5 separate regions of the Homo sapiens genome follow, and all the other regions are linked to region 2. Evidence: fine-mapped expression QTL. A gene starts in region 2. Each other region holds a variant in brackets. All regions are shown on one strand. Distances are from middle to middle.

Evidence for each region. PIP is the estimated chance that this variant, and not a neighbour inherited with it, causes the effect.
Region 1: its variant is fine-mapped to the expression of BMP2 in whole blood (TOPMed, PIP 0.93).
Region 3: its variant is fine-mapped to the expression of BMP2 in whole blood (INTERVAL, PIP above 0.99).
Region 4: its variant is fine-mapped to the expression of BMP2 in whole blood (TOPMed, PIP above 0.99).
Region 5: its variant is fine-mapped to the expression of BMP2 in whole blood (TOPMed, PIP above 0.99).

The regions. Positions count from the first base shown.
Region 1 is chr20:6,952,710-6,958,979 of GRCh38, forward strand. No RefSeq gene overlaps it. Among named protein-coding and RNA genes, the nearest start is that of BMP2, 190 kb to the left of the region's middle. The variant C/T (reference allele first, on the strand shown) is at 3,489.
Region 2 is chr20:6,764,435-6,770,704 of GRCh38, forward strand. BMP2 (bone morphogenetic protein 2) reads left to right here and starts at 3,252. Exons shown (of 3, transcript NM_001200.4): 1 at 3,252-4,441; 2 at 5,686-6,038. The coding sequence starts at 5,693. LOC105372517 (a long non-coding RNA gene) reads right to left here and starts at 3,050. Exons shown (of 4, transcript XR_937229.2): 1 at 2,887-3,050; 2 at 1,966-2,371; 3 at 1,418-1,574; 4 at 1,159-1,235. RefSeq lists promoters at 1-4,306, 3,116-3,757, 3,147-4,306, cis regulatory regions at 2,220-3,010, 3,017-3,116, 3,757-3,931 and silencers at 3,196-3,245, 3,336-3,385.
Region 3 is chr20:6,858,377-6,864,646 of GRCh38, forward strand. No RefSeq gene overlaps it. Among named protein-coding and RNA genes, the nearest start is that of BMP2, 94 kb to the left of the region's middle. The variant A/T (reference allele first, on the strand shown) is at 2,767.
Region 4 is chr20:7,748,579-7,754,848 of GRCh38, forward strand. No RefSeq gene overlaps it. Among named protein-coding and RNA genes, the nearest start is that of HAO1, 190 kb to the right of the region's middle. The variant C/T (reference allele first, on the strand shown) is at 3,429.
Region 5 is chr20:6,881,513-6,887,782 of GRCh38, forward strand. No RefSeq gene overlaps it. Among named protein-coding and RNA genes, the nearest start is that of BMP2, 120 kb to the left of the region's middle. The variant A/G (reference allele first, on the strand shown) is at 3,499.

The DNA of each region.
Region 1 (6,270 bases), 190 kb after region 2:
ACAGTCAGATCATGTGAGGTCAAGAGTTCCAGACCAGCCTGACCAACATGGCGAAACTTCGTCTCTACTAAAAATACAAAAATTAGCTGGGTGTGGTGGCTCACTTCTGTAATCCCAGCTACTCGGGAGGCTGAGGCAGGAGAATCCCTTGAACCAAGAGGCGGAGGTTGCAGTGAGCCGAGATCATGCCACTGGACTCCAGCCTGGGCGACAAGAGTGAAACTCTGTCTTAAAAAAAAAGAATTTAAACCACCAAATACCAAATATAGAGGGAATGAAAAAAATTAAAAAGTCATCATCAAGCAATCACAAATAATAATTATCTCAGGCAAGAACCATTGATGGATGCTAAGATGTATGGAGGAAAAAGGACTAGAAACAAGATAGTTGCATAGTCTCAAAGTATCTGCCCACAAGATACTTATTAATTATAAAGGAAAAAGGAGTAATTTTAGAGCAGAGAAATCCAGTAGACACCATAGTAAAACAAAATGATCCAGGTTTACATCACCAGTCATAAGATGTGTTGACATCACCTACCTCTAGTATGAAGCACAGAGAAGGGCACCATATCACATTTGTGCTATTCTTGACAAAAGTGCATAACAGCAGTCTAATCACAGGGAAAACAAAATAAAACCAAACCTAAAGATAAACTATAAAATAATTACTTAAAAACACCAAAAATCATAAAAAATAAGGAAAGATGGAGCAACTGGCACAAACCTGAAAATATGAAGGAGACATGAAGAACCTTAGCGGAAAACTGGGGAAATTTGAATAAATTCTTCTAATTAGTTAATATTTTTAACCATATCAATTTCCTTATTTTGATGATTAAATTCTAAAGTTATAAATTGTTCAAGATTTAGGAAATCTGTATGAATGGTATGTAAGAACTATCTGTACTATTTTTGTAACTTTTAAATTATTGAAATTAAATATTTGAAATAATAAAATTATTTCAAAATAAAAAGTAGGAAATCATACTTAAATCAATCAGACTCTTGGAAGTTGGTCTTAGAATAAGCTGAAAAATGTTGGGAAAGGAATTACTGAAGAGAAATGATAATAATAGGAAGTCAGAAAAAATTGTATAGTTAGCATTTTTTAAAAATGTAAAAATTGAAATGATGTTTCAAATCTTAGGGGACAATAATTGATATACTTAAATGAAAACAGGTGGACAAAGAGAAAGACAAAATACTAAAATACCCAGCACTCAATTTGAAAAGATATAAAAAGTATGTGTAAGTGTGACTGATTTGAAAGATCAAGTTCAGCTGGGCTAAATAAATTCGTTTCTATATTTTCCAAAATGCAATCTTATCTCTCTTATTGAAGTAAACCTAAAGCTAAATAAAAATAAAGACGAGTGTGTGTTTGATAAAATTCCAGAAAGGTTGCTGGAGCCCAGAAACCATGTGATATTCTAAAGATGTCAGAATTTGGCCCTCAAGGATGGCAGTTGGTTATGAATGTCAACCTTTAACTCTGGGGCTATCACTAGATCCCCAAGTAAGATTTTGCTGTTTAAAATTTTTTCATTCTTCTGTTGCCTCCCAATTGTATGGGCAAAGCAGGTTTTATCACACTTTGTAAGTTCATCACATGTAATTTTATTTCTGCCACGCTAGATTAAATTTAAGGGTCACTGAAGTCAGGAGCCACTGACCTTTGCCCTGTTAATGGTTCTCACCATTAATACTTGACCCTAAAAGCTATGTATACAATAAACCATATTTATAGGGTGGAGGGAAGGGAAGAGCAGAAACAAAGTGAATGGAGTGATTATTTGTTTTGCCATGCTGTGCAGAGATTAGGAATGTTCACACAGTCTATACGGATGGCCTGGGACTGGCTGCCTTTTATGGTGTCTGAACAAAACATGAGGATGGAATCACATGTGAGGGTAATACTCACAATGAGATCCTAGCGTATCTCAATTGCTCCGGTATTGCTGACACTTCACCTTCATCACGCTTTAACCAGAGCTCTTGTACTCTGGTTTTCTTTGGCTGTAAAAGAAGAAAAATAAAGGACACATATTATATTTAAGATTATCCTTGGCAGAAGGGAAAAAAATCGTCAAACAATTTATGTTCAGCAATTAGAATTGTGAAAGCTCTGAGAAACTGATTTTGGGATTTTGTGAAATCTCTTTCATTACTCCACCTGATTGAAAGAGAACCAACAGAAAAGTCTTTATGAATTATTATCTCCAGCATTCTGTTCCTGTAAACTTTACAGGCTTTTGTACACTCAGTTACTTCTGGGGTTAGTTTTCTCTTCCTTAACATTTGGGCAAAATGAGTGAATTTGTTTGCTGCTTTTGCTTTCTTTCTTTTACTTTTTAACGTGTCCAGTATCCAGAATGTTTAATTATTTGCACAATCAATTAAAAGCCATTTGTTTTTTATTGGTAAGCAACAGCATCTAGGCTGGAGAAAGGGATTCACTTCCTGGGAACAGGGCTTTCAGGTCATTCTGTCTGCCCATCAATTCTTGGATTAACAGGAAACATTGCTTTCAATGACCCATGTGTATGTGTGCATGTGTGTGTACGTGCACATGTGAAATAGTGCAATATTAAGAGTTGCTAAAATACACATGCAAATATTGCAAAAGAGCCCCAAGTTTATTATTGATTTTCTCACAGGAAGAACCATTATAACTTTTTAGGGAGTAACTAGGCAAAATCTTTTCTGAAGCTTAGGATATAATTATTTTGGCAATATATAGCCATCCCAAAAAAATGCCTAGTGATTAAGGCAAAGAAATTCTCTTGGTCACAGATTGAGGGAGAGTCTTGGGCTTATAAAATATTCTATTTCCTCCATTAATTGTGTCCATGTGGAGTTGTAACCAAGTAGCTGAAACAAATAAAACTTGAGTAATATTGTTTCCTTTTAAAATATTTTACTTAATGTGTGGAAGAGGTTTGAACTCATTAAACATGCACTGTTCCTTTTGCTCAAACCCCCAACCCCACCCCCCCTCAAAGAATACCCCTACTCCAAGTCAGTCCTCCTGAAACGTTCCAGCAATGCCTATAGCACCACTGTCTCCCCTTCCCTGGGAGGCAGGCTCCTTTAGCCACTCTCTAATTTGAGGTGTACGTGGAAAGGAAAGCAGAGAATGTAGTTAGCCTGGGGCCCTGCAAACCTCTTCTCTTTGACTTGGCCTGGAACTGAAGCTAAATAGTCCATTTTGTTTTACTGTAGTTTCCATGATAATTCTAATTTGTTATACTTCTGAAAACTTTGGTGAGAATTCCTGGTATTTTAAGAAGGATTCTTCTTGTGAAAGAATGAGGTGGTTTTATGAGAGAGGGTACATTTTCCCTACGCACTGAAGCTGGGAGTCAGTGGATTTGGACAGGAATAGCCAGGTGGCAAAAAGAAAGGAGAAACTGGAAAGAGAGAATGTGTGTGTGAGTGGAGAGTTGAACTTCTTTTTCTTGTGCTGGCTTATCACATCTGTCCATT[C/T]CTCAGGCTGCAAAACTCACCAGAGTTAACAGAGAAGCCTTCTCTTAGGCAAGTTCCCTCAAGTTACGTAAGATAGAGCAAAGCTTTTTATTTACTTCCCCCTGTTCTTTCCCTTATTGTGAAAGAAGCTACAGGAATGGATAGTTCTTATTCTCCTTAATGTAGACACAAAAAGCCATGGGGAGATAGAACAGGATTTAGACCATTTTTAGTAAATTATTTTCTCCCATGATTGTCTACATATACAGTCAAGAATATCTGGGGTATTTGGGCAATGATATTTAGAGAAAGCAAGCTAAGAAATCTGCATATGACAGAATTACCTTTGGATCTTATAAATTCTAAATGGGGATTGTTTTAAAACATATTCCTTAAATATCAACAGACGTATTTTGAGATCCTCGAAATATCAACATAGTGATGGGTTCATTCATCTTTTCCTTCAGTGCGTGGTGGGTGGGTGAGATCATTCCCCTGCTAGTCTTCTCTTTTAGGGATCAACACATCAAGGGCTTCCTCCAAACACCTTCTGCAGAGAGTCAGGGCTTTGAATTTAATGAGTCAGACTTTTCCTGTTAGGCTGAGTCAAACTTTATTTTCGTCTGTCACCACTGGGAAGTGTAGAGCTATGATACAGTCCTTCAGGTTTACCTCTTCGAGTTTAAGGATGCATGAAAAATGAGAAAGGCTATTAACTTTCAATATGATTCATTTCTGGATGCTTTTCAATCTCTCTCTCTCTCTCTCTTTTCCTCTCTTTTCATGTACTGTGGGGGAAGAATGCAGCTATAAATGTGTTATAGACAGTACATAGTGAATGAACCTATTCTTAGGGTATAATTTTCCCTCTTCGTGGTAACACTATAATTTAAATGTACAGAGAACAAGCAAGTAGACTATGTGAGGTAGATCAAGATTTCTTTATTCAGTGAAGAGCTGAACTTCCCAATTAGAAGTATCCTGGCCAATGATATGGCCAGAATGTAATAAAAAGATTTTACGAATTGGAAGATATTATTTTTACTATTTCAAAAGGAATCTTTAATAGAACTACTGATTATTTTATTAATTTTTATTGTAGTGAAATATATATAACATAAAATGTATCACTTTTACCACTTTTAAGCGTACACTTCAGTAGCATTAAAACACATTCACAGTGTTGTTCAGCTGTCACTACTATTCTTTTCCAGAACTTTTTATTATTTCCAAACAGAGACTTGCTATGTATTAAGCAATAAGTCCTATTCTTCCCTTCCTTCAGCCCTTTGCAATCACAGCGCTAATTTCTGTCTCTGTGAATTTGACTATTTTAGGTTCCTCATATAAGTCAATTCACAAAATATTTCTCCTTTTATGTATGGCTTATTTCACTTAGCATAATGTTTTCAAGGTTCATTCATTCTCTAGCATTCTGCACCATGTGTCAGAATTTCATTCCTGTTCATGGCTGAATAATATTCCATTGTATGAATATACCCCTGGATTTTTTCAAAAACATATTCATCTGTTGACGGACAGTTGAGTTGTTATCATTTTTGACTATTATGAATAATGCTGCTATGAGCATTGACATGCAAGCATCCATTTGAATCTTTACTCTCAATTGTTTTGCATACATATCCACAAGTAGAATTAGTCTATTATATGGTAAGTTTGTGTTTAAATTTTTGAGGAACTACCAAACTGTGTTTTACAGTGGTAGCATTATTTTACATTTCTATCAACAGTGCACAAATGTTCCAATTTCTTTACATTCTTGTCCACACTTGTCTGGTTCTGCTTTTATAATGCCCACCCTCATGGATATGAAGGGCATCTCATTGTGGGTTTTGGTTTGCATGTTCATAAAAGTTAGTGAGGTTAAGCATCTTTTCATGTGCTTATCAACTATTTGTACATTTTCCTTGGATAAATGTGTATTCATTTCTTTTGCCAATTTTTGAATTGGGCTTTGTTGTTGTTATTCAATTTTATGCGTTCTTTATAAAATATATTCTGACCTTTCTACTTCTTTTCAGTCAGATGTTTGCATGCTACATCAAAATGAATTCTCTTACATGAATTATTTTACTATATTATTATGTCATTTTATATATGTGTGTATGTATAAGAGTAGATAATTTCATGTATATAGTGTGTGTCTTATGTATATGCATGTGTGTGTTCATAAATTTTAGGAAATTAAGTTAAAATTTTTTTTGTTTTATTTAGCCATCCTCAATCAGAGACACTAAAATAATAGTATATAAACAACAAAAAGTAAGTAGTTCCTCTTGAGTTATTTAATTCTTGGTCATTTCTAATATGTTTCAAAGTGAAATAAGCAGTAATTTGTATTAACTTTAATGTAAATCTGACTTAATAGTTAAGATCTTGGTTTCTGGGGGTAGCCTGCCTGGGTTGGAATAACATTCTGTCACTTACTGTCTTGTTTAGTCTCTCTAAGCCTCACCTTCCTCATATGAAAGTTGAGATAATAGTAGTTACATAGGACTATTGTGGGAATTAAATGAAGAAACCTAGTGAAGTGATCTCTGCGGGTCTTACCTCAGAACCCACTTGGTGCTAGAGAATCCTTTAATAACAGAGGAAGTTCATAACCCCTAGAGATGCTTTCCTAGACCTGCAGGTAGAAGCCGTGGCATGGATTTTACCACTGTATTGCAGGGTAATCATCAGAATTCCTCCGAGGTAAAGAAATGAACAAGAAATTCTTATGGCTTGAGAGCCCAAGTACATTTTAAAATGAGGAAATGCCAACTCAGGGTTATTAAAATGT
Region 2 (6,270 bases):
ATAGTTTACAGACATAACTTAAGGTGTACATCTTAAACTGTGTGACAGTCTAATCAATGCACAAAATTCATTCTTTTTAATTTTTAAGAAGATGTAGTTGGTACTTGCTGAAAGCAGTGATCCTGATTTGGCCAACTTGGCCTAGTTTCTGATATAAATCACTCCACCTCTCCCATCCTTTCTACCATGTCTAATCAAACACCAAAAAGGAAAACATTTGATTGACTAAATGCTTCTCTTTTGCCTTGGCTCCAAGTTCCTGTAAAAAAAACTTCATCCAGGTAAAGTAAGTAGGGATGGTTATGGGTGTCACCCTTGTAACAAAGCGATATGTATGCTAAAAAGCAAAGAGGGTTTCTCAGGGCAGTTGCCACAGGTTTCCATGGAATGACAATTACAAGGTAGATGGATCACGTAATGCCTGCTGTGAACTTTACAATACATGGGGATCACTATTTTAATGTTGATTTGCATAATGTTTGGCCTAGCAAGAACAATACTGAATGCTAATAGCTACAGAATGCAATAAAATGGAATATCATGTGAGCTGAAGTGCTAAAATTGCTAAAGTATGACTGTAAGCAGTTAATTTCATCCCGAGTCTTGTCCACACACAATCAAATGCAAATTTCCACTATCTCCTGAGAAACTGCCAAGAGATGACTGAAATGGAATAGCAACAACCTCCTTTATGTGGAATCATTATCTGGTCATCTTTGCTTTTTTACATAACTTGTCTGTACCCTCTGATGCATTTGAATTTGCAACTTCTACTATCCCTATCTTAAACAACTCCCCACTCCCACCTCTGCCCCTTCCACATTTGCTGGCAGATGCACTAAGTCTGATAAACTCAGCAAGACTGAATCTCACCCTCTGAACTGAAAAACTTTGAATGGACCTTTGAAAACGGTAGAATTGACAATGGTTAGCTGCAAGTGATATTTTCAAGGCAAACAGACACTCTCCCAAAGTATTAAATAACCCAGCATTCTAAGTTGCAGGTGGAAGGTAGCCATTAGTGAAGAGAGAGAAAAAAAAAAGAAATAGCTCGTCTGTATTTAGATTTATCATTTCTGACTATTGCTCTTCCCTGGAAAACGGGTAGGTACAGTCATCCTGTACTTCGATCCCAAATCAGTCTCTGGAGACTACTTATTTATTTATTTATTTATTTATGGACTTCTTTCTTTCAAGCGTTCGAACTCATTTCCACCACAAGAGGGCAGCCATCTCTAAAAAAAAAAAAATAGGGCCAAAATTTATGTAAGTTGTGCTTGGAACAAGCATTCAGTAGTTCCTCAGAAATCATACACCCTACATAAAAGAGATTCTGCAATGGGCAGCACTAACATGAAACAGTGTTCAGAAGTACCCATTTTCCCTCAGATTCTAAACTGACAAGGTTTCCACTTACCAGGTTATGAAGTTCTAAAGCTGCAAGACATCCTTGAGGTCATCACAGGATATTTATTTATTTTTTCTTCGGGTGCATCCAATAGTTATCAACTTTTCCTCCTCTTTAAAAGCTACTTAAATCTCATTGAAGTTTTGTTTTGTTTTGTTTTTGAAATCTAAGTAATGAGAGAAACAATTGTTAACTTCTCAATTAAACTTGATAGGAAAGGAAATAATTTCAGAAGCCCTGTGTCCATGAGTAGGATATGTTTTATTGCCTCCTTGTTTGCGGTGCAATGACTCTGAGTGACAATCAACTTCTATAGCACCTTTTTTTTTTTTTTCAGGAAATAAAGTAGCATGTTCCTGAATAATTCCCCCACCCCCTTTTATTTTCCTGGTAGTCAGGCTTCCTCCAAAATACCTTATTTGACCTTTATACCTTTAGAAACAGCAAGTGCCTAATTCGCCTCTGTGGGTTGCTAATCCGATTTACGTGAGCGGAACCTAGTATTATTTTAGCTCCCCTACCGAAAAAATAATACACATGGATAATAGTTCTATTACCAGCTCCTGCTTCTGACTTTTTTCTCTCTGTTTCGCAGGCCCGATAGCTCTGGGAAAGCAGAACTTGGCCTTTTCCAAAAATTTTCTGCCCTTGGTTTTGGGGATCATTTGGGCAAGCCCGAGGTGCTGTGCATGGGGGCTCCTGGAATCCTGGGAAGGGCAGAAAGCCTTGGCCCCAGACTCATCGTGCAGCAGCTCTGAGCAGTATTTCGGCTGAGGAGTGACTTCAGTGAATATTCAGCTGAGGAGTGACTTGGCCACGTGTCACAGCCCTACTTCTTGGGGGCCTGGTGGAAGAGGGTGGCGTAGAAGGTTCCAAGGTCCCAAACTGGAATTGTCCTGTATGCTTGGTTCACACAGTGCGTTATTTTACCTTCCTCTGAGCTGCTAATCGCCTGCCTCTGAGCTGGGTGAGATAAATATCACAAGGCACAAAGTGATTGTACAATAAAAAAATCAAATCCCTCCCATCCATCCTTCAGTCTGCCACACACGCAGTCTACGTTACACACATGTCACGTAAAGCAGGATGACATCCATGTCACATACATAGACATATTAACCGAAATGTGGCCCTTCGGTTGCATATATTCTCATACATGAATATATTTATAGAAATATATGCACATATTTTTGTATATTGGATATATTTATGTAACTATAAATTTACATGCGTATGGATATGAAAATAAATGCATACACATTTATGTAAAAAAATTTGTACACATGCATTTACATATGTAAATACATACATCTCTATGTATTAATGTTTAAAAACACTCAATTTCCAGCCTGCTGTTTTCTTTTAATTTTCCTCCTATTCCGGGGAAACAGAAGCGTGGATCCCACGTCTATGCTATGCCAAAATACGCTGTAATTGAGGTGTTTTGTTTTGTTTTGTTTTTTGAAATCGTATATTACCGAAAAACTTCAAACTGAAAGTTGAATAACGGGCCCAGCGGGGAAATAAGAGGCCAGACCCTGACCCTGCATTTGTCCTGGATTTCGCCTCCAGAGTCCCCGCGAGGGTCCGGCGCGCCAGCTGATCTCTCCTTTGAGAGCAGGGAGTGGAGGCGCGAGCGCCCCCCTTGGCGGCCGCGCGCCCCCGCCCTCCGCCCCACCCCGCCGCGGCTGCCCGGGCGCGCCGTCCACACCCCTGCGCGCAGCTCCCGCCCGCTCGGGGATCCCCGGCGAGCCGCGCCGCGAAGGGGGAGGTGTTCGGCCGCGGCCGGGAGGGAGCCGGCAGGCGGCGTCCCCTTTAAAAGCCGCGAGCGCCGCGCCACGGCGCCGCCGCCGCCGTCGCCGCCGCCGGAGTCCTCGCCCCGCCGCGCTGCGCCCGGCTCGCGCTGCGCTAGTCGCTCCGCTTCCCACACCCCGCCGGGGACTGGCAGCCGCCGCCGCACATCTGCCGCCACAGCCTCCGCCGGCTACCCGAACGTTCTCGGGGCCAGCGCCGAGTGGATCACCGGGGACCGCGAGGCACCCGCGCGCCGCAGACCCCGCGCGGGCTGGAGCACCCGGCAGAGCGCGCCACAGCGCCGTGGCCTCTGCTGCCCGGGCTGCGCCAGAGCCGCGGACGGGCGCGCAGAGCGCCGGGGACTCCGGAGCCGATCCCTAGCGCCGCGATGCGGAGCACCTACTGCAGGAGATCGGGGGCCTGGGACGCGCTGGCCGAGGTGTGATCGGACCCCAGGCTAGCCACAAAGGGCACTTGGCCCCAGGGCTAGGAGAGCGAGGGGAGAGCACAGCCACCCGCCTCGGCGGCCCGGGACTCGGCTCGACTCGCCGGAGAATGCGCCCGAGGACGACGGGGCGCCAGAGCCGCGGTGCTTTCAACTGGCGAGCGCGAATGGGGGTGCACTGGAGTAAGGCAGAGTGATGCGGGGGGGCAACTCGCCTGGCACCGAGATCGCCGCCGTGCCCTTCCCTGGACCCGGCGTCGCCCAGGATGGCTGCCCCGAGCCATGGGCCGCGGCGGAGCTAGCGCGGAGCGCCCGACCCTCGACCCCCGAGTCCCGGAGCCGGCCCCGCGCGGGGCCACGCGTCCCTCGGGCGCTGGTTCCTAAGGAGGACGACAGCACCAGCTTCTCCTTTCTCCCTTCCCTTCCCTGCCCCGCACTCCTCCCCCTGCTCGCTGTTGTTGTGTGTCAGCACTTGGCTGGGGACTTCTTGAACTTGCAGGGAGAATAACTTGCGCACCCCACTTTGCGCCGGTGCCTTTGCCCCAGCGGAGCCTGCTTCGCCATCTCCGAGCCCCACCGCCCCTCCACTCCTCGGCCTTGCCCGACACTGAGACGCTGTTCCCAGCGTGAAAAGAGAGACTGCGCGGCCGGCACCCGGGAGAAGGAGGAGGCAAAGAAAAGGAACGGACATTCGGTCCTTGCGCCAGGTCCTTTGACCAGAGTTTTTCCATGTGGACGCTCTTTCAATGGACGTGTCCCCGCGTGCTTCTTAGACGGACTGCGGTCTCCTAAAGGTAGAGGACGCGGGCCAGGGCCCGGGGTGGGTGGTGGGTGGGAGGGGGATTTGGGCAGCCACTGCGGTAGAGCCCTTCCTTACGTCCAGGCCAGAAGTAAACAGACCCCTCTCCAGTCCACGTGCAACGGAGCCCTGCAGGGGCTCCCACTTCCAGCTGCCCCGGGCGACCGTAAGCCTCACCCTCCCGGCCCGCACTCTTCCACCCCTCTTTCTTCCCCTCTCCCTGGAATACTTTTGGAGCTGTTAACACTTAGATGAGGTGTTTTATTTATTTATTTATTTATTTTTAATTTTTTTAAAAACTTTTTTGGGTCAAAGAAATCCCTTTGAGAGGGTAGCCCCTGGGTTTCACCCGTTAGCTGAGAACCTGTCCGCTCTGCCATGGTGATCTCCATTCTTCAAGTGTTTCCGGGAGACTTGGTTTCTTTGCTCAGAGCCGTGTCCCATTTAGGAAAGTACTAGGAGTTTGGGGTTCTCCCTACTTGTTTCCAGAAATGCGAGGGGTCAGTACTGAAGGATCACTTGGTACTGTGTTTTTAACAGCTGACACGTGCATTAATAGATATTCACCATTTACGTAATCCCGGGAAGATACATGTGTATCTTGACTGCACTGTGGGGATGCGGGATGGAGCTGCCTTTCGAGACACCCCTGAGGGTAGGGGCCTGGGACACAAGTCATAAGTGGCTTCAGAAGTTGTGGCCTTGAGCTTACAGGGTCTGGAAGCTATAAGGGTGTGTGTGTGTGTGTGTGTGTGTGTGTGTGTGTGTCAGGAAGTTCTATACAGTGCCTCTAAGGAAGTCACATGCACCATTTATGTGTGTTTATATGCCAGACAGCGCTCAGCACTCCGCATTTGGGTTTGTATAGGGGACGCAGGGTGTCAGATCAAGCGGTGGTTTTCCCAGGTTCCCGGCATTGGCTGTCAGCGCTGTGTCACACACAAAAAAGTGACAGTCATTGGCGCTGGTTTGGTTGGGGGGGAGGGCAAATCCCAAATCTGATGTCAGACGAGCTAAGCGTTGGATGGGAGCGATAAATCATCTGGTTCAGGAACTTGGGACCCTTCATTATCCCAAACGTTTGAGCTTCGGTCGGTCTTACCTAGACTCGTGAGTGTGCCAAGCCAGGAGGGCATCCTGGAGGAGGCACGCCAGCCAAATGGGAGACCGGGCCGCGGGGGCGCGAGGGGGGAGGACTGGGCGGGGAACTCGGGTGACTCACGTCGGTCCTGTCCGCAGGTCGACCATGGTGGCCGGGACCCGCTGTCTTCTAGCGTTGCTGCTTCCCCAGGTCCTCCTGGGCGGCGCGGCTGGCCTCGTTCCGGAGCTGGGCCGCAGGAAGTTCGCGGCGGCGTCGTCGGGCCGCCCCTCATCCCAGCCCTCTGACGAGGTCCTGAGCGAGTTCGAGTTGCGGCTGCTCAGCATGTTCGGCCTGAAACAGAGACCCACCCCCAGCAGGGACGCCGTGGTGCCCCCCTACATGCTAGACCTGTATCGCAGGCACTCAGGTCAGCCGGGCTCACCCGCCCCAGACCACCGGTTGGAGAGGGCAGCCAGCCGAGCCAACACTGTGCGCAGCTTCCACCATGAAGGTGAGGCATGGAGCAGGGCGTGGGGGCGGGGAGTCACCCTGCAAAGCCCTCCACCGTGGGCAGACTGCAGCCGTCCCTGTAGAGGCAGCTTGGCCGGGGCACCAGCGGACGTTTCCACTCTTGCTTCTGTACTATCGTTTCTGAATCTGATTTTAACTCACTGCTTGTGTGGTGGGGGAGCCAGGGATTCCCCTTTAGTAACTCCGCACCCTCTTCCTGGCTTGCAGCCAGA
Region 3 (6,270 bases), 94 kb after region 2:
CCTCATTTTCCTTTCTGATCTTTGGTCAATAGGTTCCAGAGAAACTATAAAATATGAACTTGGATGTTGATTTCCAGCCTTGGTTTCCATTAGTGAGAATCTGGGAATAGAATAAGGTGAAGGAAAGGTTGCTTTAAGTAAGAACTTTTAGAAAGATGTCAATTAAATGAAATGGTGTCGGTGATTCTTAACTTGCAGTCACTGGATTCCTGGCAGCTGAAATTTCTATCTGAATTTTGGTCAGTGTTGCTTATAGGGCTTATGATAGCCTGCAGCTTGTATGGTGTATGCCAATCTGTTCCCTTCTTTCCACAGACCTGGGACCACAGCTTCGGCATGAAATTTTTTGGGGGTATGCTCAGAATGTGGTTTGTAAGCTCATCTTTATTACAAAGAGGTAGGGAGAGAATGATGTACTGGACACAAAAGCAAGAGAGTTTATCAGGATGCATTTTGCTTATAAATAAGAGATGACCAATTCAAGCTGGCTTAAACAATATGGGGTTGTGTCAGTTTTCACATCTGGAAGGTTTATAAGCTTCAAGCTTGGTTTGTTCAGGGTTCAGGATTCTCTTCTCAGTCTCTCAGTTCAGCCCTGTTTTGTGTGCTTTTGTGTTCATGGCACCAAATCCACACCCTGCATCACTCAGAGAATGAGTCCCCGTTCCAGAATCCTCAGGGAATCCCCAGAAGTCACTCTGGCCATATTGACTTCAGCCACACATTCATGCTTGCATCAATCCTGGTCAGAGCAATAGAGAGACAGTATCTTCTTTACCCCCAGAGTCTGCACTTCCAGGCACTTCCACGGGAAGGGAGGTGTGGAATGAATGCAAGACAGATCTCCCTGGAACCCGCTGCAAAAAATGAGTGTGGGATGGAAAAAGAGAGCACCAAAGGACAGTGTGACAATAAAAAGTCTAATTTTATTCTGCAGCTAGTTCAGGCAATACCAAAAGTGGATCTGAGGTGGTATAATTGAATTAAGTCAAAGTGGTTCTATCAAACAATAAGATGTTTGTGCCATCAGCTATAGACTGTGAGTTCTTGGATGTGGCAGTTTATTTTTCTGAGTCTCAGTTTTTTCAGTTGTAAGATAATAATTACTGTTGTGTAGGGTTTTATTGATGATTAATAAATATAGTGTTTTATAAAGTCCCTACTGTAATATCTGGCAAAAAAAAAAATAGGCACAAAGTGAATGGTAGAATTAATCATCAAAATGACAATTTATTGCTATCATTTTTAGTACATTTTGGGTACTCCCAAAGTGCTAGTTACTATATTTTAGAGTTGTTTTGATAAATATAAAAGATAGTGTCTCTAAACAATGTAGAATAAGTGGGTAGAAAATTAATGTTAGAATTAATAACAATATATTCTATTTAATATTACATAACATGTAGTTAGTATTTATGCATAATAATTTATTGTTAATTTCACATTTTATATAATTCCAAGGTGCTAATTTGAAGAACAATGCTTCCCTAAATATTTAAATTTAATGATGGTAGCTTATAAGGTTTGTCTTCTTACTATGTGGTTCTATATCACAGTCATTGCAAAAGGACAATAAATTAACAGTGCTTTAGTGATGGTTATAATTCACTATTACTACTTGTCAATAGTTATTAATAAAAGGTTAACTCTTCATATGTGTTCATTTGTTTACAGTGCTGTATACTTCCTGCCTTTTGATACTAAACACCTTGTGAATACAATGATCTAACTTTTGGGAAAGCAAAGTACAGATGGCCATAACTGGATTCTGGGGATGGGGTCTACCCCTGGCAATGCCTTGCCTGCTTGTACTTTCAGTTATGTTCTAAAGGGCTTATCTTCAGCAATCTTATTCCTATAAGCTGCTTTTAAAAACTTAGAGATGTCAGGCAGTGGGTCAGATGAGAGCTGTGCAGCATGGCAGTATTTAGAGTATTTCTGTTTTGAATTGTTTTGTACCACTCAAAACTTCAATATATTTCTCACATCATAGCCTTCCACAGTCACATATGCAAATTCATATTCATAATCAAACTTGTGGATTATTCATCTCTGACACTATTATTAATTCCTATGGCATTCTTATTTTTAGTTCCAAGTGTTCTCTTACTTAAAAGCCTTTGTTGTCATCAATTGTTAATTTTAGCATTATAATCCGTGTGATTGTTTCTCTAGTATTTCCTAAGCATTTTTTCTGGGTTCTTGTTCACCTTTCAACCCTTTTAATACATCCCAGAACACTTAAACTTTTGCTTAAGTCTCAAAAGCACATACAATTATTTGACCAAATAAGTACATGATTAGAAATTCATAGGTCTCTTAAAAATATTTTATGTCCTATATTAAATGTCAAATAAGAGATAGAAGTTTGTGATTAGATAATATTAGAAACTTGGACTTACTTTTATAAGTTAAGTAAACTAATGTTCAGATGCATACAATTCTTACTAAATACCCCTACCTGTAACTTTTAAGCATTGCCATTTATCAATTAACAGTTATTTTATTAAGCAATCATTGTATGCCTGGATATTCGTTTGCTGACATCTTCATGTGCAAATCATTCCTTCTAAATCTTAAGAATACACACATAAGTGATATATTCCCCTTATATGTTATAGATGACATGAGGAATGATTTGCATTTAGGATGCATGATCAAGTGCATTAGCTCTTCTTGCAATTTGGTCACCAGTGAAAAGAAATTTGGGGAATTTTGACACTGGGATGTAATAAAATGGGTTATCAAAAGACATGCTTTTTTTTA[A/T]AAAAAAAGAAAATATTTTAGAATGAGGTATGCCTTACTTACAAAACGAATGAGGTATGCCCTATTTACAAAACATCAGTTTAATTCCAAGATGAAAGCATTAAAAGATAGGGAGAAAAAAACCACCCTTGTGCTGATGAAATGGTGGCTCCAGAAGGCATAAGGGCTATCTTAAGACAGTAACGTGACCAACTACAAATTATTTACAATCAGAAAAAAGGGAATAACAGAGGAGGCACTACTGGATCAAGGCCTCCAAACTCATTTAGTAGGATTAGGTTTTTTCCTTAAAAAACCTAATTGATTTTTTACAATCCTTAAAAAATAAAGCAAATGGGACAATACATAACCTGGATAAAGATTATATGAGCGTATTTTTATTCTTGCAACTTTTCTATAAGCTTAAACTTATCTTTAAGTAAAAGTTTTAAAATATCCCAAATGATAAAAGAGAAGCTCGATCACAAGTAATCTATTTTAAAACCAGAAGATTTGTCTATGCATTTTATTTCATATCTATTTTCAAGATAGAAGGCATTGCTCTCCTGAGCCACACATGGAAAAGAAAGGGAATTTTACCATGTGGAAATTTTACCTCCCTTGGTAAATTTTATATTTTGGTGGGTTTAGGAATTCATGAGAAATGTGCCCTGGCTGTTGCAGTTTTTGTATATTTATGCCATCTGGATCAAAGACAGCTCAGACTCTCACCTGTATTGGGCAAACACTGCTACATGAAACTCAATCCACTGTAATTCATTCTCTTGAAATCTTTATAAAGAAGTTGCAAGGGAAATGCATGGATAATTACTGTTTATGCTCAAGGACCAAATTTACCCCTTTCATTGGGTTTGAAGGAGATGGTAATGAGCTTCTTTTGTGGCCCTGCCATTCACCAGATGACAAGCTCTTTTAAACTGAAGCCTGGTTTAATTCCTTCTCGCAGAATAGCATTTTAGCAAACTTGACAGCAGGATTTTATTTATTTATTGGTAAAAGTATTATGTACAATTAGTTTAAAAAATCTAACTGTAGAGAAAGCTACAAGATGAGAAATAGCAATACTCCCCGCGCTCCTAACTCCATAGTCACTGTTAAATATTTCTTGTATACTCCTGGGAGTAGTGAGTATACACTTTCACCCATATGCATACTTTAAAAAAATACAAATAATGATTTACACTTTACAGTAACATATTTTTTCCAAATAGTGATACATCTTACTTTCCCCCTCTTAATAATACGTCTAGAACACGTTTCTTCTAGGTTGAACCATATGAAATTACTGTTTTGCTAGTTTGACCTAATATCTCAGGACATGGGTATAGCCCATTCTTTAGACCATGCTGTAGATTTTTCTTGTACAGATACACAGATATCTATCAGTCCCATATTGCTAGACATTTAGTTTGCTTACAATTTTTTCTGTTACATATAATGCTAAAATGATCACTGTTTACATATATCTTGGGGGATACTTTCATGACTATGTGTTAAATTCTTAGTAGAAAAATTTCTAGGTGGAAGAGAACATATATTTTTAACTCTCAATTTTGTCAAATTGACCTCCAAAAATGTTAATGTTTACAGGGGCCCCAGTTATGCAGAACACTGTGGCATCTCAGAAATTTTAATTTTTGACAATCTTTTTGGTGAACATTTTTATTTTTATTTCGTTGTTTTGATTGACATTTTAAAAATGGTTTTGAACATCATCTTATAAGCTTATTTGCTTTTTGCATTTATTTTCCTGCAAAAGTTGTCTTTTTCATATCTTTTAAAGATCATTCTTTTAATTCAGTATCATTAATTTGTGGGCGTGATGTTTAAGTTCAAAAAATTTGCTATTTGTCAAGTATTTTGCAGTAATCAAATGAGTGGAAAGTATGAGGAAAGTTAAGGAGGAAATAGTAATTTTGAGACTATGCTACATTCCACATACAGGCTTTTTTTTTTTTTACAATTTGATTTCATTGATTTTTTTCTTTGTTATTGGACTTATTAATTTTTTGTGGCTTCTGTATTCTGTCTGACTTGGAATGACGTTTCTAATATATCTGGGTTTTCTTGTTTACTTTCAAAGAAGCACATAGATTCCTGCTTTTCTGGAAAATTTCTGATTATAAATGTTTGTAATATTTGTACAATATTATCGGACTATGCTACCAGAATTTGATTTCAAAAATAAGATAGCTACAGTAACTCTAGTTACCACAACATAGCTATGTCATGGTCTACATTAATTAGACATCCTTTAAAACTGTTTGTACTCATTCCTCCACCTTCCTGTTCTGTGCTCTCAAAACAACTTTCCAATCATTCCTTCAGTGTTCAGGAAGGTGATGCTCCAGAGAAGGAATGCAGTTAGAAAGCCCCCTGTAAATGATCAATTTGTGTTCTAGTGCAAAGCACTGTTTTCTGAAAGCTGGGTTTCCCCTCAACATTCCAGACTTGCTCAGATGAGACCTCACTCACTGTGGAAGCCGGAGTTAAAAGTGACTTGGAATTATAGGTTAAGGAAAGAGGTAGATCCTTTTTCTATCTTAAGTTTCCATCTGAAGGATAGTCCTGATACTTGTTCCACGTAAGCCAAAAAAAGAGTCTCCAGGTAACAAGATCTTCCCTGGGACAAGCGAAAGTTAAGGCAACAAAGCATGAGGTTTTGGTTGTTGTTTTTGTGAGTTTTCTGTTTGTTTGCTGGCTTGTTTTTTCCAAGGGTTCATTGGCTCTAGGCAGCCCAGCTTTCATTTAAGGAAAGGTTCGTGGGCGTCTTGTGGCCTCCACTCCACATGCCTCTGCACTATGTCTATGACTTGCAAAAACAACCGTGTGGGATGCTAATTCAGTCTTTGGTTTCTTTTTCATATCAAATACTGCCAACTTGGCCTTAAATATGTGCCAGATGCACGATGGTTTTATGATGTGATACCGTTAGGAAGTCTGGGCTGAGTATAGCTGGATGTGAGCTGGCTTCTGCTACTGGAGCGGTTCCTGCCGCTGATGACTCCAGCACAAGCTTGAGAGCTTGATGGCTTTGCTGGGTACCTTGGCAAATAGTGCCTGGCAGTGGATGGTCATTGAGTCCCTGGTGAGAACTGCAGGTTCTCTTTTCTCTGATGTCCAGATTTCTGAGTCCTATGAGAACTTGCATGGTGCTTTTCTGGGAAAGGAATGAAAAGCCTCACCATCGTGTAGCACACAGTGTCAAAATCTTGTCACAAATATCCCAGGTACTACCTCCTGATATGCATACCTAGGGCACTCTTGCCTTTCCAATTAATATTTTAAGGAAGTTTTCATTGATGATGGGCCCAGAAACTCAAACATATTTAACTTTGAGTTAAAATTAAACACCAAAGGAATGAGAGAGATACCCAGTTGAAAAAATAACTGGAAAGTTTAGGGAGATTATTTGATCTAAAATGACTCCTTTGGAGAGTAAAACCTATGGTCAGAGTTCTCAGTTCTTATGTACAAATTTTACAAGGGACGTAGTCCAAGCAC
Region 4 (6,270 bases), 980 kb after region 2:
TACCTTGAGATATGTTTGAATATTTCCATATTATACAATTCAAAATGCACACAGTATGTATATATATTTGCATCTGTGTGAGTCCATCTGTTATAACTGATTTTTTAATTCACTATCAAACTACTAGGTCATATAAGAAGGAATCCAGTGTATAACCCCCTTTCCTGAATGCTGATCTCCAAGGCAAGGCCCAGTGAGGAGAGTTTATGGATTCTCCTGCCTGAGCAAATTGTCTCCAGTCTCTTTACCAACCTCCAGCCAACAAAGGGCATGTGTTGGACATTGGCCACCTTAACTTCATTTCAATGTGACAAAGTTTGTTACAAACAAGATTGATTTGAATGTGGCTGTTAATAAATCACAGGCTGCCAATAATTACTTTTGATACTTCCAGATTTTTTTGAAACTCTATTTCTGCTTTTGATGTCATTTAGTGTAGGTAGAAGCTCTATTTGAATTCTTCTTGCACTTCAAATTCTGATAGACTTATACATTTTAATGTAGAGGAGTTAAGCTACCCATTCATTTAAGAAAATGATCCATTTGGTCTCTCTAATACCCACAAATAATTACCATTAGAAAACTATAACAATGAAATCACAGAGTTAGAATAACACCATGCAAATCCCAAAGAACTGAGGTATTAATATGAGAAATAAATAGCTACAATCTGAAATAATAAATCAATAAGATAAACGAACTATATCACCTGTATACAATATGTCTTAATAAATAATGTTATTGGAAAGAAAATGTATTGGCTGTCCAGAGATGGGACTTTAAGCTCTTCTCTTCCATATCTTTGATCTTTGTCAAAGCAATTTACTTCCTTTTGATTCCATTTCTTTATCTCCAAAATTAGCAATGTCATATGGGAGACTGGGATGGGGATATTTTTAAGTATAATTTTTATATGCAGAAAAGATTATTCAGAGGCTCATTTTGCATTCAACCAAGTAATACTGAATTTACTAATACGAAAACTTCAAGAATCTAGTTTATAAGTTATTTTGTGTTTAGCTTGAAAATCCTATTCTCTAGCAGTGTTTAAAAGTGATTGCTTTTAAAGGACCTTTAAATAATAGTTTTTATAAATAAATGTATTAAAATATCTTAAGCATTTTAACTACATTTTAAATATTTAGTTATTTAATTTTTACATATTTCAGTTAACCTCTAATTTATATAAATTTTATAAATTAAATTAAAATTTTGGTGAAACATTGATACTCTTAAATATTCCAATTCTATAAACAAAAAATTTAAATGATTGTTCAATTATAAATTTTAAAACTGGACTTCTTCTGTGCTCTACTAGGTTAAATACTCTTAAATATTAGAAAATTATAAAATACTAACCTAACACAGATTTCTTAATGAGATAATATTAATATTATGGTTTTAAATTTCCTAAACACTTCCCTAATTTTCTAAATCTCATTGAGGTTAAAAGTTACCTACTAAATGAGGAAGAGTGTCCCCATCCCAGTTAAATGACACTGTTTCCCATCAAAGATTTAAACCAAGTATAGTATTTGGAATTACATAAACTATTATATTATGCCATATAATTTTGGTTGATGCCTCTCCAGTATTGTTTAGGGTAATAAGGACATGGAGTTTTTGTTCAACAAGTTGGCCGGATTCTTACTGTAGACATGAATGGATGCTCTAAACTCAGTCTATAGTTGCTATATAAATTAACCCACAATTACATGAAGGAGTGGCCACTAGTCCAATAAATTTCTGGATTCACAATATATAACAAAGTCTGCAACTTCAACATGAGGTGATCTCATTTAAATTTTGCCATTTCTTTGCCTCTTAAGGAGTATACATGTCTTCTCCCTGGGCATAAAGAGCTCTAAACATGGTGAAATCCAACAGTTCTATCACACCTTATTCTTGGGACTGCACAACCATTATAGATTTTAAGTTACATCTTATTAAACTCTAAATGTCTGTAAGGACTTTATTTGACAATTCAATGATAATTTACATGGTTATTCCACTAACAAGAGTATAGACTCATCACTAATCTGAAGTTAAATAAAGTTGTACTATATCTAGATCTTCTAGAATGAATATATTTCTGCTATGTGACCTTAACAGTGCTGCCCACTTGAATTTATTTGGGTGCAGATAGTCATTAGTATGATGACATCTATAGGTATTTCTCTAAGTAAGCTCTGAAATCCTCCCACTGAAATACCAATATGTCAGCCAAATTCTCAATCTGCCTGCCGCACTCAACAATTGTACCCTGGGCACAGACTTAAATATTGAGGAATCTAAATGCAATGATTATAATGACTCTTTTTAGTATCCTCTGTTTAGAGTTCACGTTTGGAAAATTAGGGTACCTTTAAGTATTCTGACAATGGTACATTATCTCCAGACCTTAGAGGGAGAGACATATCTTCGTTTTCTTGGTTATACAATAACATATTTTTAAAATAATTTTTAAAAGGAAATTAATGTAGCATATATGTTTATGCAAACAGCATTATTTTTAAATATGCTTATAAAAACATATGGAGATTTTTGAGAAGCAGGGGTCATCTGGTCCCACCTTCTCTTCTAAAACTGGGAAGGCATGTTGCCTCCCAAGCAAGCAGACTCTGAGCTTGACTTCAGTGTTTCTGTAGGAAGAAAATGTGGTTCATCTCTGTGGCTGTTTCTGAGAACGGAGGTGCTGAGTGTTTGAGGAGCTGAAAGAACAGGTCACGCTGGAACCAAACTAAATACAAACCTTAAAACAATGAGCCTCTGTCTGAATGCAGGTCTTCTGGCTCCCAGAGTGACACCTTAGCCAACCCATGTTCTGTGACTGTCCTGAGTTGCAGGGCTGAGGCAAGGAAATCATATCCACACTCACAGTTCTCTAGTTCATTCTCTCTCTCTCTCTCTGTCTCACCCTGTCTCTCTCTCTCTCTCTCTCTCTCTCTCTCTCTCTCTGTCTCCTTCTCTCTCTCTTCCCACTAGAATATACACAAGAAACCGATACTCTTAACACTGGATTATGACTGGGAGTCAAGACATGACCCCTGACCTTGCACACCAGGTAGCTTGAGCTTTGTTGTTTTTCATCCTTATACTAGAAGATTTCCCTTGTCAAGATTTCCATTTCTTTCCCTTGTCAAGATTTCCATTTCTTTCCCTTGTTGGGAGAAATTATCCACAATGTACGAGCAGGTAAATGGATTATTGCATGTTCATTGTTTACCAGCCCACCCAAGGATTATTTCATTCTCTAGGCCAGGAGTCAAGACACTTTTCCTGCAAAGGGTCATATGGTACACATTTTAGGCTCTGAGAACCATATATTCTGTCATGAGTATTCAGCTCTACCTTTGTAGCACAAAATCAGCCATAGGAAACAAACAAATGGGTGTAGCTTTGTCCCAAAGGAACTTTATTTAGAAAAC[C/T]AAGTGGCCAGTGGATTTTGGTCTACTGTAATTTGTCAACATTTGCTCTCCTCTAGGAAAATAAACCTTACTTGATTTGCTATTTGTACTTGATCAGGGCCCAGCCTCTGTGAGTTTACCAGTTACCTTAATTAAAATATTGATCCTATAGAAGTGCAAATTACTTTTTTTCTGATTGAATTGACAGTCCCAAAGGTTATGATTTTATTGCCTAATAGCTCTTTAAACTGTTTTGTCTCTAACTTCAAAAGTAAAATTTTATTTTAATATGTCTTTCCTGATAGACTATATACACTCTTAATCCTCAAAGGCCCTTTGAACCAGGTATGTCATATTTCTGGATGAGTTATATAAGTGAACTATTGTTAATTTATACTAGTTCACTAGTATAAACTAGTGAACTAGTTAATAAGAACTGCACTATATCCTATATTTATATAAGAATCATAGTTTTATCTTTCTGACAACTAAATATTAACAATCTGGATTTGAGGCAAACACACCAGCATTCTATACATGATACCAAGAACAAATATCACAAGCACCTAGGAGGGAAAAAGGCAGGCATGTCGTGTGAAGCCCCTCCCTTCTCTTACCAGATAAGCTCATGAGTTTTCTATGAGATGACATTGGTCTTTTCTAGATTCCTGATGCCAACTCCTGGGAATTCCTATGTCTTTAGAAACAGTGGCTAGAAAAACACAGTTTCACAGAGGTAAAATGAGGCAATTCATCAATAAAAATGAGGTAATTCACTAATATAAAGCTCTGAGGTATTTATTTTTCAGCTCTGCTATTTTACAGTAACTACTGCTTGTAGCAAAGATAATTCCTCAAAATCCTTTCCTTTTATGCACTCCATTCACATATAGGAGAGTTCGTTGAAGTGAAGGAATGATGGGCTCAATTAAGAAAAGGGACATATGCCAGTCATCTGAAATCTTTCTAGTTTGAAACAGAAAATAACGTTATTTTGATGATTGCTTTAAAAATGAGAAGAAATTTAATATAAAAATTAACTCTGAATTAGCCCTGAGTTTTACACACCATCAAGGTCAGATTAATTTTAGGGAGCATTCCAAAGCTGCACTAGTACACTGCTATCCTTTCTCAAGTGTGTAACTTCAAAAGCTCACTTCTGGTTCATGCTATGTCTCAAGCATCATTTCTACAGAGATAACTTCCCAACTCTATTTCTAGGCTACATTATTCTTCCAGGCATCAGTCTTCCGTTTGCAGAAGACTGACCATCTCTCTTTTCCTCCAAGCTTATTCTTCTTCCTGTCTTGTCCATACTATGGTACTCCCATCAGATGGCCTTCTTTGCTCAAAACCTTTAAAACTTATTTGACATTTCCCTTCACCTTACCACCATCCCTAACATCCATTCAGCAGCTGGATCCCATCAGTGCTCCTCCACCCTCACCCACAGTTCACTAGCACAGGTTACCTTAGCTTCACTTTCTTTCAGCTGCTCAATGCCTGGTCGGCTCCTTTCTCAGAGCCCCACTCACTCCATTAATAGAACAGGCAGACACAGACTACTTTTTTTTTAACACACATTTCCTGGTGCTTCCATTCCTTACCCCAATCAAAAAATGTTGACTGTTTCTTATTACTAGGCAAGTAAAATACAAATCCAAGACCCTACCTGACCTCCATACCAATATTGCCATCACTGATTCATTTCAACTGCTCCTAAGTCCTTGTTCACTCCTTTCTGCCTCCCTGAAATATATTTTACTGCAGCCTTCCCTTGCACTACTATGTTTTTACAGGTCCCAACCTTGTCTAAAGGTCTTTCCAATTACCCCAAATAACATTTGCCTCCTGCAACATCCATCATCTTTCACTGGTTCTCTCCCACATTCTTAAACTTCTTAAGAATGGGTAGGCATGAATGTGTATGGTAATAAAATGACAGTTTTCAGTTTGCACCCCAGCACTGACATTTGTCACCTCTGTGACTTTTACCAACTGACTACATGTCTCTGTGCCTCAATTTTTCTATTATCTGTAAAAACAGGACAAAAGCCTTCACCTCTCCAGACTCATGTAGATATAAATGAGTGAAACTGATCCACAACAAATATCATTTATGTGGATCTTATAACACTACGTCTTGAATATCTGAGTTTGCCTTTTGGTTAAACTTATTTCATAGAGACCTGGAGAAGGATTCCTTGTGGTTGTCCAACATTCTTCTTTTGGTAACAGCCTTCTGGAGAATTATTTCCTCTCATTAGGTCCAAGCTGGTGAAGCTGTAAATCAAGGTGCCTGGCCTTCCTTGCCAACTTTGTGGACACATTGCTTAAGCTGGACATATTGGACTTTCTGTCCTGGGACTTTGTACTGTGAGCTGAGTAATGAAAAGTTGAAAAAAAAAATTGGGATATCTGTATTCCAACATTTTAGTCCCAACAACTCAGTTGCACAGTTGCTCTTACTGAGATTACTAGAATGCCTGGTTCTATCCTTTCTAGTGTTTCTTTTCATTCCCTTCATGCTCATGTCTTCCCACACAGTCCCCCAACCCCTCCTATAATTTTTTTTCTGCTTGAGTTAGTGAAATTTAATTCCGTTGCTTACAACCAAAGAACCCTAACCAAGTATGTCATCTACCAAAATGGAGACAGCCAAAGCCCAATGTCTAGCACTTAAAATTCTCAGTAAATCTTTGTGATATAAAAAAAAATTATTGTCCGGGCGCAGTGGCTCACGCCTGTAATCCCAGCACTTTGGGAAGCTGAGGCAGGCAGATCACGAGGTCAGGAGATCGAGACCATCCTGGCTAACGTGGTGAAACCCCGTCTCTACTAAAAATAAAAAAAAATTAGCTGG
Region 5 (6,270 bases), 120 kb after region 2:
TGGTCCCCAAATGGGAGAGGGTAAGAGGCACATAGACTAGAGCTACAGCTGCCATGGACCAGGCTAAGGATGGAGATTCTGCAGACATAGTGCCATCTCCTTCTCCTCAGGCCACTGGCCTATGCAGGCCTCCATACTTCAGTCAGCTCCTGGATGCCTTCCTTCTCTGCAGCTTAAGGGCCACCTTCATAAACTGATTGAGGTCCAGAGCCAAGGAAGAAGCTACCTAACCCTTCAGGTCACTTCTCTGTGTATGATGAGGGCTTAGTAAAAATTAATGCTTCCAAGAACTACAGTCATTTTTATTTCATCTTAGCAAGAGAGATCTCATGCCTCTATTTGGTTCTTTAATGGGTGAGGGATTTGGGCCTAGAAAATGAGGGGAAATTGAGAAGAATACTCTTAAACCTCCCAGCAAGAGAAGAAATGTCTTGCTGGGATCATACCTATTCCAAAAGATGGAAGTATTGCAGCGAGTTCTCTTCCTCTCTTACTCCATCTCCTGTTCTTCACTGAGGGAAGTGGGACCATATTGACTTTCCTGCTGAGGCAATACCCCCTAGGATATAAGCAGAACCCTCAGGAGGAACTCAAACTTTTTCCCCTTTGTCTTTGGCCTTCTTTAGAGTAGCCTTTTTTATGTAACAAGATTTCCCTGCAATTTAGACCACCATTGCCTTAAGGAGTGAGGCTAAAAGCTGCTGTTTACTTTTCTAGGCATCAGGGTGAAATAATTCCTGTGTAGTTTAGATTTCCCCAAGCACTACATTATTGTGTTATACTACTGAAAATTAGCCTCTATATCTTTATTATGGTATACGACCTTGCTGGCAGAAAAAACACTGGTGACATTATAGATCCTTAATTATATAGATCCTTAATTAATCCTTATAGATTCTTTATTCATAGTTGAATGAAATGAAAATGGAACTATTTTGCCATCTCTGGTTAGATCTCTTAAATTGGCTTTGGAATTTGTTGGCTTGGCCTCTGAAGAACAAAGAGTTGGGAACGTTTGACCTTGCCTGCGATTAACTTTCTCAGTGCATGGAATTTAGAGCCAGACTGGGCTTCTTTCTGCAGTCCCTTTAGTCAGTTCACAGGCCAGTGGAAGCACTAGTTTTTCAAGGAAAAGCCAACTCTTGACATAGCAAGATCAGAGCTAGAATCCTAGGAAGCATGCTTGGCTGTACACGATCCCTCTAATTTCAAAGCAAAGCAATGTAAGGAGACAGCTTGGTAGTTGTTTTATTTTCTCTAGAGTGGACTTATGTTGTCAGTGGCAGAAATCCATGAACCATGAAGATAAAATAATGCTAACCAGAGTGCTAAGTAAAGAAAACAAAGATGGCTCCACAATTAGTAGCATTATATATGTTAGTGCTAAGTAACAACAGATGTGTCTGCAGGGAGAGAAGCATTCCTTGCAATCCATCAGAAACCAAAGTTCTCTGACACCACAAGCCATTATGATTATCTTAGGCTTGGGGGATGATGGCTGAGTCCACTGGGTTGGCAAAGTAGGGATGCTGTTGAGGGTGTTCCAACCTACCTATGTCATCCTTCCCATGTTGCACACTTGTGCTGAGTTAACAGGGCGATGTGCTCTGTAAAATCCGGTTCTGTAAAGACATGCACTAGCCATGAGTCATTAGCAAGCATGCGAAGCTAATTGGCAAAATACTCATAAAATATTTTGAAGGTGGGTTAATTACAATTCATTACACAGTAAACTGTCCCCAGGCTATTGTTAAAAAGTACAGGAGTTTCAGGGCCCATTATTTTATGATTCATTTTGCCATGTTGTGAAAAACAGACTCTAAATCAAACTACATTTATTATAGGTCAGACCACAAAATCTTTATTGGTTTTTCCAACATTCCACCCTTGTTATATGAATTCATATGGACTGCACATTTCTGTCAATTGGCAAGAAAGCATGAAATAAAATTTATGATATTTTCTTACCTTATCCTCAGTGTAGCCTTAAAAATCACAAGATCTAATTGCTTCCCCTACTTCCCCAAGTTCATGCAAGAAATAAGTATTTCAAAATCAACTCCAAAGTTCTAATGATTGAAAGCAACTAAAGCATAATGAAATCTGTCTTCTAAAGTAAGCATCTTAAAGAAAAACTCAAAGCAACATCCACTTGAAATGTGTTGAAGCTTTTTTCCCGCTCTACCCAGTAAAATATCTAGAATATACTTTACATTTGGAGGATAATTTGAAGTTCATTGGCTCCATAACACAAATCTTGTTCTCCTCATCTCTACCTTTGAAAGCATCTTTCTTTTTTTTTTTTTTTTGAACCAAAGCAAGCCCTCAGCATTTATTTCTTGAAAAAACAAAACAAAACAAAAACCCTCTGGTACAGTTGTGTGCCTCCTGTTATTACCATAGGCAGATTTGGTCAGAATCATGTAAGGCCTCATAAGTAGTCATTCTGTACCATTACATGTAATTGTTTGTTGATTAATGCTTTCAATTATGTTGATTTTCACTATGTGACCCAAACCACCTTGACATAGCCAGCCTGGTATACTCATTACCGGGGATGAGCAAGGAACAAAATGCTAGGTTCACTTCCAGCCTCCAAGAGTTCAGCAGCTCATTTGAACCTTATCTGAACTATCAAAAGTTTTGACTCTGCAGAAACCTGTGTTTGGGGAAGGGGCAGGAATGTGTGGCTCAAGAAAGGCTTTAGGATGAAGTGGGGGTTGTGGGGGGAGATGTTGGAAATTGTGCAAAAACTAGTTTCCTTGTGAGTGATCAGGTACTTCCTGATTCTGGCTGGGCCAGAAATACCACAAAAGCCTTTCTTGAAATTTCTGAGATCTTTGGAAGGTCTTCCTCCAAGCAGTTTGCCAGTTCTGCATGCCTGGGTTTTGGCTAGGGCTGGAGACCAAAGTATGTGCAAGAGGAAACCGTTTAATAGAAAGTTACCTGTATACTTAAGAATTGTCAAAAGAGTTTTACCTCTACTAGAATAAAGCCTGAATGGTTTGATCAGTGTCAATGATCTTAACCACTCCCATTCCTCATAGAAAGATGAAGCTGAAAGATGACATTGGAAATTGCTAATGCAACCCACTTATTTTATAGGGGCAGTCAGGATATCCATAGAAACTATTGACTGGGTCTATACACATGTGGACCAGAGTGAGAACTAAAGAGCCAGTAGAGGAACAAAAGAGGAAGAAAGGGGAGCCAAGCTGTTGAAAAGCTTGAGTTCTGTCTTTACTCTGCCATATTAGTGGTGTGATCTTAGGCAAGTCACTCCAATTCTCTGATCCTCTCTGGATCATTTCAACCACAAAATACTAAATTAAATGTTGTTGTAGGATGAAAGTACTAAGAAAGGGTGATTTGGAAGCCAGACCAAGCTGGATGAAAAGAGTGTCAAATTGGGAAGAGAAAGAATGGCAGCTAGGAAATGCTGGTGAGTTGGAGAGAAAACATTGAGTGGAAACAAAAGAAACTTGATGGGAAATGACT[A/G]TTTTGCATTGAGTAACAACAGACAATCATAACATAACTTGAGGAGAAAGTAAAGTTGTTTGATGCAATTTTAAAAGATGTCAAAATAGCCTTAAGTTTTATGAAATAAACGAATATTCCAAAGAGGCAAGCATGAAAGGAAGAAGTGTTCAAATATGGGAGACACTAGGTCGGGCGCGGTGGCTCACGCCTGTAATCCCAACACTTTGGGAGGCCGAGGCGGGCAGATCATGAGGTCAGGAGATGGAGACCATCCTGGCCAATATGGTGAAACCCCATCTCTACCAAAAATACAAAAAATTAGCTGGGCGTAGTGGCGGGTGCCTGTAGTCCCAGCTACTCGGGAGGCTGAGGCAGGAGAATGGCGTGAACCCAGGAGGCGGAGTTTGCAGTGAGCAGAGATTGCGCCACTGCACTCCAGCCTGGGCGACAGAGCGAGACTCCGTCTCAAAAAAAAAAAAAAAAAAAAAAAAAAAAGGGAGACACTAGGACAAATTAGTTTCCTAAATCATGCTTCACGGGACTAAGGGCCAGAGCACAGAATACCCCACTACTTCTTCCTCAACCAGAGCAGTTGCCAGTTTATCTCTTCCAAGCAAGCTTTTGTTTAAAGAACGTTTTCTGAAGCTAAGGAAAAAAATTTCTAATTGCTAACCTTGCAAGAAATCAAAAAAACGAGTGGTACTTTAATGAGTTCATTTATTGTGACACCTTTAACAGATACAACTGCAGGCCCTTGAGTGAATGAAGATCTGAAGTGGCTGTTCTGTGTAAAATACACGTGGATTTTGCAATGTGGCCATTCTAATTGGCAGGTAACTTCAACATCAGAAATCTCCAAGCTGGGCTCTCTGAGGAGAGCGGGACTAGCTCTCTTATAGGCACCAACATTGCAGTTTGGATTATGGTTTTTTGACGAAGGGTATTCAGTGTGTCAGAGGGAAGGAAGTCCAGGGCCAGGGTCAGCCATCTTTCCTTCTGCCCGCAGTAATGTTGACCTCTCGAGGAATTGATGACAGTGGAAGAGTTCGGGAAAGGAAAGGGTGGTCAGTAGCTCCAGAGTATAAACATTGGGAACAGGTTTGAGAAGAATGCTCAGGAAAATAGAAACAACTAACCAGCAACTAAACAACTAAATTGCCTGACAGGGAATCATGGAAGCTAATCAATGCAAAATTGGTGGTCAGGTAGGGGCGGGCAATGTTGACATTGAAGTCTTGTGGACAGGCTTCCTGTGTTGATTTAGTAACCACACAATGGGTAAGGGAGAGGGGATCTCTGATCATAGCACCACTAATACTAGGATGCTTCTCTTTGACAGGCATAGGGTATTTTTTTTCTTTTAAGCATTAAGTAAGTGAGAAGATCACCTTCCTTTCTTTCTCTTTTGCCCTAAGGGCCTGCCCATTTCCAGCTGCGTAATTACCTCCTTCATAAGCCTTTACTCTGAGGCATGAAGGCTCTAGCCAGTACCCTGACTAACTCCCTGCTGGGGATGCCTCCGCTGAACAGAGCAGAGAGACCTGCTGATTTCAGAGCCAAGCGCAGAAAGCAGCTGGCTCTTAACTTGTTGTTTAAGAGAGCCAAGCAGAACAGAGCTGACGATTGCCTGGCCAGTGGGAGCCTGAGCCAGGCACCTGTCAAATCCTGCTTTGCTGGGTTCTCCTGCACCCTGCTCTGCAGTGCGCTTTTCCGAGACTGGCGGTCCACACCCCACAGGCTTTCTCCCTCTACAGCCAACCAGCTGCCAGCACCCCTGTAAATTCTTTCTCCAGCTAATATTTTGATCCCTAAGCAAGTTTCTCTCTCTTTTACTGGCAGGAAAAAAAAATGTCAAAAAGGGAAAATGATGATGTCTCTATTTTCTTCTGATAGCAGGCTACCAAACACTCCCAGCATATCCATTCTTTCGCTTTGGGAAAGAGGGAAGGCAAAGTGGTCTTGACGGTGTGTGTGCAAGGAGAGACATTCGAATGTGTATTTTTACCTGTCATTTGGGTCTTGAGAAGGTTGAAGTCTGCATATGGAAAAACTGGCCCTTTCTCTTCTCAGTTCTGAGTTTTAGAGTTAGTAAACTATGTAAATTATTTTATTTCTCTGTGCTCTGCATCCAGGCTGATGTCCTGGAGAGAGGGCTTTGAAAAACTGCCCCTGAAGCTATTGGCATTAACTGAAATTGATGTTTCACAGGACTGGGATAAAGAGGGTTATCAGTAGCTCAGGCCTGGCCTGCCTTGGGGACCACTGCCCACTGGATTACCTATTGGCTTAGGGCATAGGCACTGGCTTAGGAATTAAAAGTACTAAGTTCCAGACAAGCTCTGTTTGTGAAATCACTTAGGCCTCCAGCAAGCTTTAGCTTTTCCAAGGTTTTAGTGCTCTCATTTGTAGAATGAGACGGTCAGTTAGACATCACCTCCAAAACGTTACGAGTTTCATGAATCTGGCTGCACTTACTTTGTGGAGCCATCAGCCCTAACCTGAAGCCTGGGAAACAAGTAAACGTGTTTCAAGTTTCTTAAAAGTTGCTTTCTCAAGTTACTTCCTTTCTTCACACAAGAAATGAAAGGGAAACACTGCTGCAAAGAGCCCTGGAAACAGGTCCTGATTTTAGAAGAGAGCCTTGAGATGACAGGGGCATGGATGTCCTGCACATTCCTTCAGCATAACCGCAGAAAGCCTGCATATATTTTTCGTTGTTTGTAATTGCAAACTTTTCTAAAAATCTACCCTTTAGAAATGATTGCCTTTCTCTGAGGATCAGATCACAGT